2 separate regions of the Homo sapiens genome follow, and region 1 is linked to region 2. The links come from fine-mapping of genetic effects on gene expression. A gene starts in region 2. The other region holds a variant in brackets. All regions are shown on one strand. Distances are from middle to middle. Region 1 overlaps PLEK (pleckstrin). Region 2 holds the start of CNRIP1 (cannabinoid receptor interacting protein 1).

The links. PIP is the estimated chance that this variant, and not a neighbour inherited with it, causes the effect.
Region 1: its variant is the best candidate, but not a certain one, in a credible set for the expression of CNRIP1 in visceral fat (GTEx, PIP 0.57).

What each region holds. Positions count from the first base shown.
Region 1 is chr2:68,391,747-68,394,659 of GRCh38, reverse strand. It overlaps PLEK (pleckstrin), which reads right to left. Exons shown (of 9, transcript NM_002664.3): 7 at 1,415-1,498; 8 at 484-553. Among named protein-coding and RNA genes, the nearest start is that of PLEK, 28 kb to the right of the region's middle. The variant C/T (reference allele first, on the strand shown) is at 1,329.
Region 2 is chr2:68,318,561-68,321,473 of GRCh38, reverse strand. CNRIP1 (cannabinoid receptor interacting protein 1) reads left to right here and starts at 1,525. Exons shown (of 3, transcript NM_015463.3): 1 at 1,525-2,252. The coding sequence starts at 2,074.

The sequences.
Region 1 (2,913 bases), 73 kb before region 2:
GAGGCATCCACAAAGCCATCCAACTCCCCAAGGCCTGGAGAGCCTGGACAGCAGTTGGGAGACAAAAAATAACTCTGGTTTCTCCAAGGTTTTCAGACAGTAAATTCATTCCTGCTTTTTTTTTTGAGACAGAGTATTGCTCTGTCACCCAGGCTGGAGTGCAGTAGCACAATCTCAGCTCATTGCAACTTGCCAAGCTCAAACAATTCACAGGCATGTGCCACCATGCCCAGCTAATTTTTGTATTTTTAGTAGAGATGGGGTTTCACCACGTTAGCCAGGCTGGTCTCGAAATCCTGATCACAAGTGATCTGCCCTCCTCGGCCTCCCAAAGTGCCGGGATTACAGGTGGGAGCCACCATGCCTGCCCCATTCCTGCTTATCCTGATTAATTGATTGATTGATTAATGTTGGCCCAGGATGTCCAGGTGTGGGAGGGGAGTCTGAGCAGACCCACCTCTCTCACACAGAAATTCATCTTACCATTTGAGTTGCTCTCCACTGAAGTCACCACACAGCCTCTCAAGTGAATTGCTCCCAGGGGATCTTCTGCCTAAAGAAGAAAGGAGTTGTTCATTATGTTTCCAAAATGCAGAGTATAGATAGACCTCATCCTCTTGGTGAAAAAGCCAGACTCACTCTAATATAGATCAGGGCCCCCCAAAATAAGTAAGAGCAGAAGGAGATTAAAGAAAAACTGCTGACAGATCTAAGGTCCTTCCAGATCCTCCACACCCTGCTTCAGTGGGGCCAGGAGGCTCAATGAGAAAATGCAAGACGATCTGGACTTCAATCTGGAGAAAAGTGACAGGAGAGGTGGAGACACTGAGGTCACTGTATCCCACTAAAAAAGAGCTACATGTTTCCAGAGCTCTTTGGTCCCATGCACCTGATGCAGCAATATAACCACCCAGGGGAAGTCAAATAGCCCAGTGCTGCAAGCGGAGGGTGAGCACCCTACCCAGAGTTGTCTTCATGCTTTAAAAGTGGTTCATTTTATGGTGGAAAAAGTCCTCTTCGACAATCAACAGCCCAAATTGCTGGACTTAAACAATACCCTCATCCAAGTTGACCTGGATGAGGAATTATCACCTTTATGCATATTAAACCATGGACTGATTTAATTCCCCTGAAAATATCAGATTGGGGAAAAATATGTTGAGTTGACCAAATAAATTATAATATAGTGATATTTTGTTCCATCCCTAAGCTTATACTGACCTCAGAGGCCCAAGATCTCAGATCTTTGCATTGAAAGGGGATAGAAAAAGGTAGAGGAGAATGGGAGAAAAAAAAGTGGGCCAGTAAAGAGAAAAAGGGGATATCAA[C/T]AGAGTAGAGAGGGGAATAGGAAGCCCAGATTATAAATGCAGTGGATTTATTTATTTGAATGGATTTATGAACCACAGGACCTTACCCCAGCAGGGTCATAGTAGTGCAGGTAGGCAGGGTCTTCTCTCAAGATGAACTTCCTCACTTTCCAGTTTTTCCTTCTATGCCCCTGTATCCAGGATCAACATTAAAAGAAGGGATGGTGAATTCCCAGCATCACTCTGTACAAACAATACCTACAGAATAATTATTTGCTGAATTGAGAAAAGAAAGAGAAAATGAAATACTAACTCCAGGATAACAATATCCCGGCCTAGGTCTTTGTCAGGGAGATAGTGCTACAGCCAATAAATAATATGGATGTTATTAGATCGAAGAGGTGGATTAAATTATTTCTAATTATTGTCTTCCAGTTTTAGTATGATATAAGGCAGTACTAGGTACAATGTGCTGTGTTAGGTAATGTAGGGGGAATAAAGAGGTTTAAGATGCCCTGATCTTTAAAGAGTTTATGACCTATGTTGAAATATAAAGTAGCAAATGCCCAAATCAAATAATTGGTATAGATAATGGATTCCAAAGGCATTAAGTAGGGAATATGTAATTGTGGGCTTTGGATATCAAAGAAAGCCTCATAAAGACCTGCACTTATCCATGTGGGACACAGGATTTAGATGGGCAAGACAAAGGTGGGTAGGAGGACAACTGACAACACAAGAGCAGAAGTGGGAATGCAAGAGACATACTCAGGTGTTGATGAATAAGACCAGTCTGGCTAGAATGTAGGGTTCATGAAGAGTAGCAGAGGCAAGGTGGGAAAAGTGGACAGAGATTTAGTGGAAATAAAAGGCAGGGTTTGTTGTTGATGGCTTTTGAGTAGGAAGTGAAAGAATTACAATTACATTTTAAGAAGATTAATATGGTGACAAAGTGCAGGATGGACCAGCTGGCTAGATTAAAGGAAAGCCCAGGAAAAGATGGTAAGTAAAAAAGAATTCATTAGGGAAGGATCACAATAATCCAGGCATAAAATCATTAGGAACTAAACCTTAGGTAGCTGCAGTAGGAATGGAAATGCCTGTTGCTGTAACAGACATGATGAAGGAAGAAGAAGAGGCGGAAGAGGAGGAGGAGGAGAAAGAAGAAGAAGAAGAAGGAGGAGGAGGAGAAAAGGGGGAGGAAGGTAGGAGGAAGGAAAGAGGAAGGAAGAAAGAAAGAAGAAGAAGAAAGAAGGTGACGACTTGGCCTTTCCCAACAGAATTAAACACTGACATTGTCTAGACTGAGTTTTAAGGGCAGGATTTGTGTCTTGCTTATCTTTGTTTCCCAGGGCCACAGTGCCTGGCATATAGCAGCTGCTTCATATCTGTTTGTACTTGCTGTGAGTTACCAAGTTATTTCCATTAGTGTGTAGCAGATTTTAAACTGTCATGGTAAACCTGACTCTATGATTTCCCACAGGAAATTCAAATGACTTAACTCCAGAAGCCAAAAATAGTATTATATTAAAAGATACGGAGTTTCTATCTTGCCAATACAAGAAATATTATTTGTAATTTCTAAAGCACCACATATTGGCAAGCA
Region 2 (2,913 bases):
GTGCTGGGATTCCAGGCATGAGCCACCATGCCGGCCTTAGAACCAGGTTTTAAAATGGAGTCATCATCCTCCAGGTCCAATGCTCTTTTTGATACACAGGTGGAAGTTGGCTTGAGATTGTGGGGTTGCTAAACAAAAGGTTGAGGAAAAAAGGCAAAATTTCCAAAAAGGCTTTTAAATGACCCCAAAAAGATACTCACCCTCTTTCCACTACTCATAAACCATAATAACCAACATTAAGTTTACTGTGTAACTCTCTCATTCTTTTAAAAGAGCTAATACAAACATACACATTTATATTCTTTTTAAATTTTCATTTTTCTAAAACACTAGAGATGCTACTTGCAATTAGATTTCTTTTCATCATTCCAGGTAAATCGCAAGGATCTAATTAATTTTAAAGATGTGAAAGAATTTACATATGGACATGATTAAGACCACAACCGTAAGTCAATTCAACAACGATTTCTGGAGCACCTACTATGTGTCAGGCACTATTTTGGCATGCTGGGGAAACAGCAACAAACAAAACAGACAAAATGCTCGCCCTCAGGCTTTGTTTCCCAGCCATCCCACTTTTATCATTAACAGTTTTTGCCTGTGTGTTTGCCAATGCAACCTATATTTCATTATTTTGATAGTTGTGTAACGTTCTATAGTGTGGGTATATAAGAATTTATTCAGCCATTTATTTATTGGTTAACATTTCATTTAGGTTTTATTTTTATTTTTGCAACCAATGTTGCAATAAACACCCATATTACATATATATTATATGTATAGCTTATTATTTCTTAAAAAAGAGCAGTCTAACTTGGGTAAACAAAAACTGCCAAGGAAACGCATCCCTACCCATTTGTTCTCACTAGCCCACTTCATTTCCCAGGTGTGCTCCCTGGCTCTGGTACTATCCATCTGGGTGGTGCTGAAGCAGGTGCTCTCTCTGCTCCGGGAAGCCATTCCCAGTATAGTCCTCACCCCCTGAGTCTCCCCTCGCTTCCAAAAGTCAGCTGTCTACCGACCTCTGCCACGAAAACTGTCTAATCACGCTTAATATGCAAATCTAAACTCTGCGGTGTCGCATATGGCCCCCTGCCAATAATCCTTTGACCCATCCCACCTCTTGGCCATTTTGTCACCAGAATGCCTTAGGCTCATGTCAGTTGCCTTTTACAGGGTTAATAGCTCACCCTTCAAAATCTGTGTAAATATATGTGATTCATTACATATATTTATGTATGTGTCATTTTTGGGACGAGCATACGTATAATGGAAATGTACACCCACAAGAAGATGTAGCTCCTTGAATATGGTTATTTTCTTCCTCTTGCATCCATTCCTCATCCAGCGTGGCTCCATCACGTGGAATTGCGCCTTTCCTCGGCCATTTCCCCTAAGCTTTGGAAAGACTCATATTTCCTGAAATTTAAATCACCGGCTAGCGGTTTCCTGTCCCCCCTTCCCGCCTCCCTTTACCCCCCCTCAGCCTCCTCCCGCCTGGCTGGCGCCGGATCCGCGAGCAGCAGTGTCCACCTCACGTAGCTGGCCGAGGCGGTATCCAGATTCCGGGGGTCTCGCTCCTTGGCATAGTGGTCGCTTAACTCCAGCGCCTTCCCAGTGCCTCCCAAACCTCTCCTCCTCCTGCCCGGGGCTGTTCTAGGAGGAGCCTAAATGTCCGCTTCCCCAGCTGAAGGGGATTGTGGTGCGTAAACAGGATTAACTCCCTCGCCCCCAGCTGCGCGGATCTGCGCGGCGGCCTGCGGGCCAGAGCGAGCCTTCGGGTGCGTGGAGGGCGCAGCACTGGAGCGGGGGATGGGGAAGCGCGCGGCCTTGGAGCCGTCTCTTGGGCCCGCTTCCTCGCCGAGTGGGGAGGGGGGCCACAGCCTAAGGAGCTGCTCCTCAAAAGCCCGGGCGGACGGCGGCGACGGCGCGGGTTCCTAGCGGCAGCCTCAGCTCCACCACCTCCCTCACCCTCCCCGCGCTTCCTCTCCGCCCCTCGCGCTCCAGCCACTCGGCCGCAGCCGGCGCTGTCCTCCGCCCCCCGGAGCCGCCGCGCCAGACCCTCGCCCAGACATGGGGGACCTGCCGGGCCTCGTGCGCCTCTCCATCGCGCTGCGCATCCAGCCTAATGACGGCCCGGTCTTTTACAAGGTGGACGGGCAGCGCTTCGGCCAGAACCGCACCATCAAGCTGCTCACCGGCTCCTCCTACAAGGTTGAGGTGAAGATTAAACCCAGCACGCTGCAGGTCGAGTGAGTGCGGGGCGCCTGGTGGCAGCAGGGTCCCCCATGGGGTACAGGCAGAGGACTGAGGCCCCCAGGACAGCCCGAGCCTCTCAAGGGCCTCTGGCCTCGCGCCGCTCCCAGCGGGCCCGGGGGTTGGAGGAAGAGGTCACTCCCTGTCCGCCTTCGTCCCCTTCCTTCCCTTTGGCTTGTATTCCTCCATTCTCGCTTCCCTCCACCCATCGCAGTGACCTCAGTGGGTTCTTTAAAATCAGTGACAAGAAGCCAGGGTTTTTGCTTGTCTGTTTCTTATAAATTTCTCCTGCCTTCTGTCCAGCCTTGGGCGCGGAACCGCAGGCGGTCGGGGTGGAGCAGATGGGAGAGGTCCGCAGGGTTCAGCCACCGCAATCCCAGCCCTCCTGCGCGCGGTCCAGGCGGCCCACAGGGTCTGCCCGCAAGGCTGAAGGAGGGAGAAAGGAGGAATGAGGTGGAAAGGCAGGGGAGGGGTGATTACTGGGGCTCCCTGAGGGATGCTCCCCACTCCCTTCGCCATTCAGTGGCTGGGACCCTGGGGTGGAGCAGCAGACACTAGTAAGAGAGCGGCCGCCCCTTCTCTGGCCTAGTTTCACGGTTTTCCATGCCGTATGCTGTTCTTTTTCTCCTGAGTTTTCTGTTCAGGCTGGTGATGGTG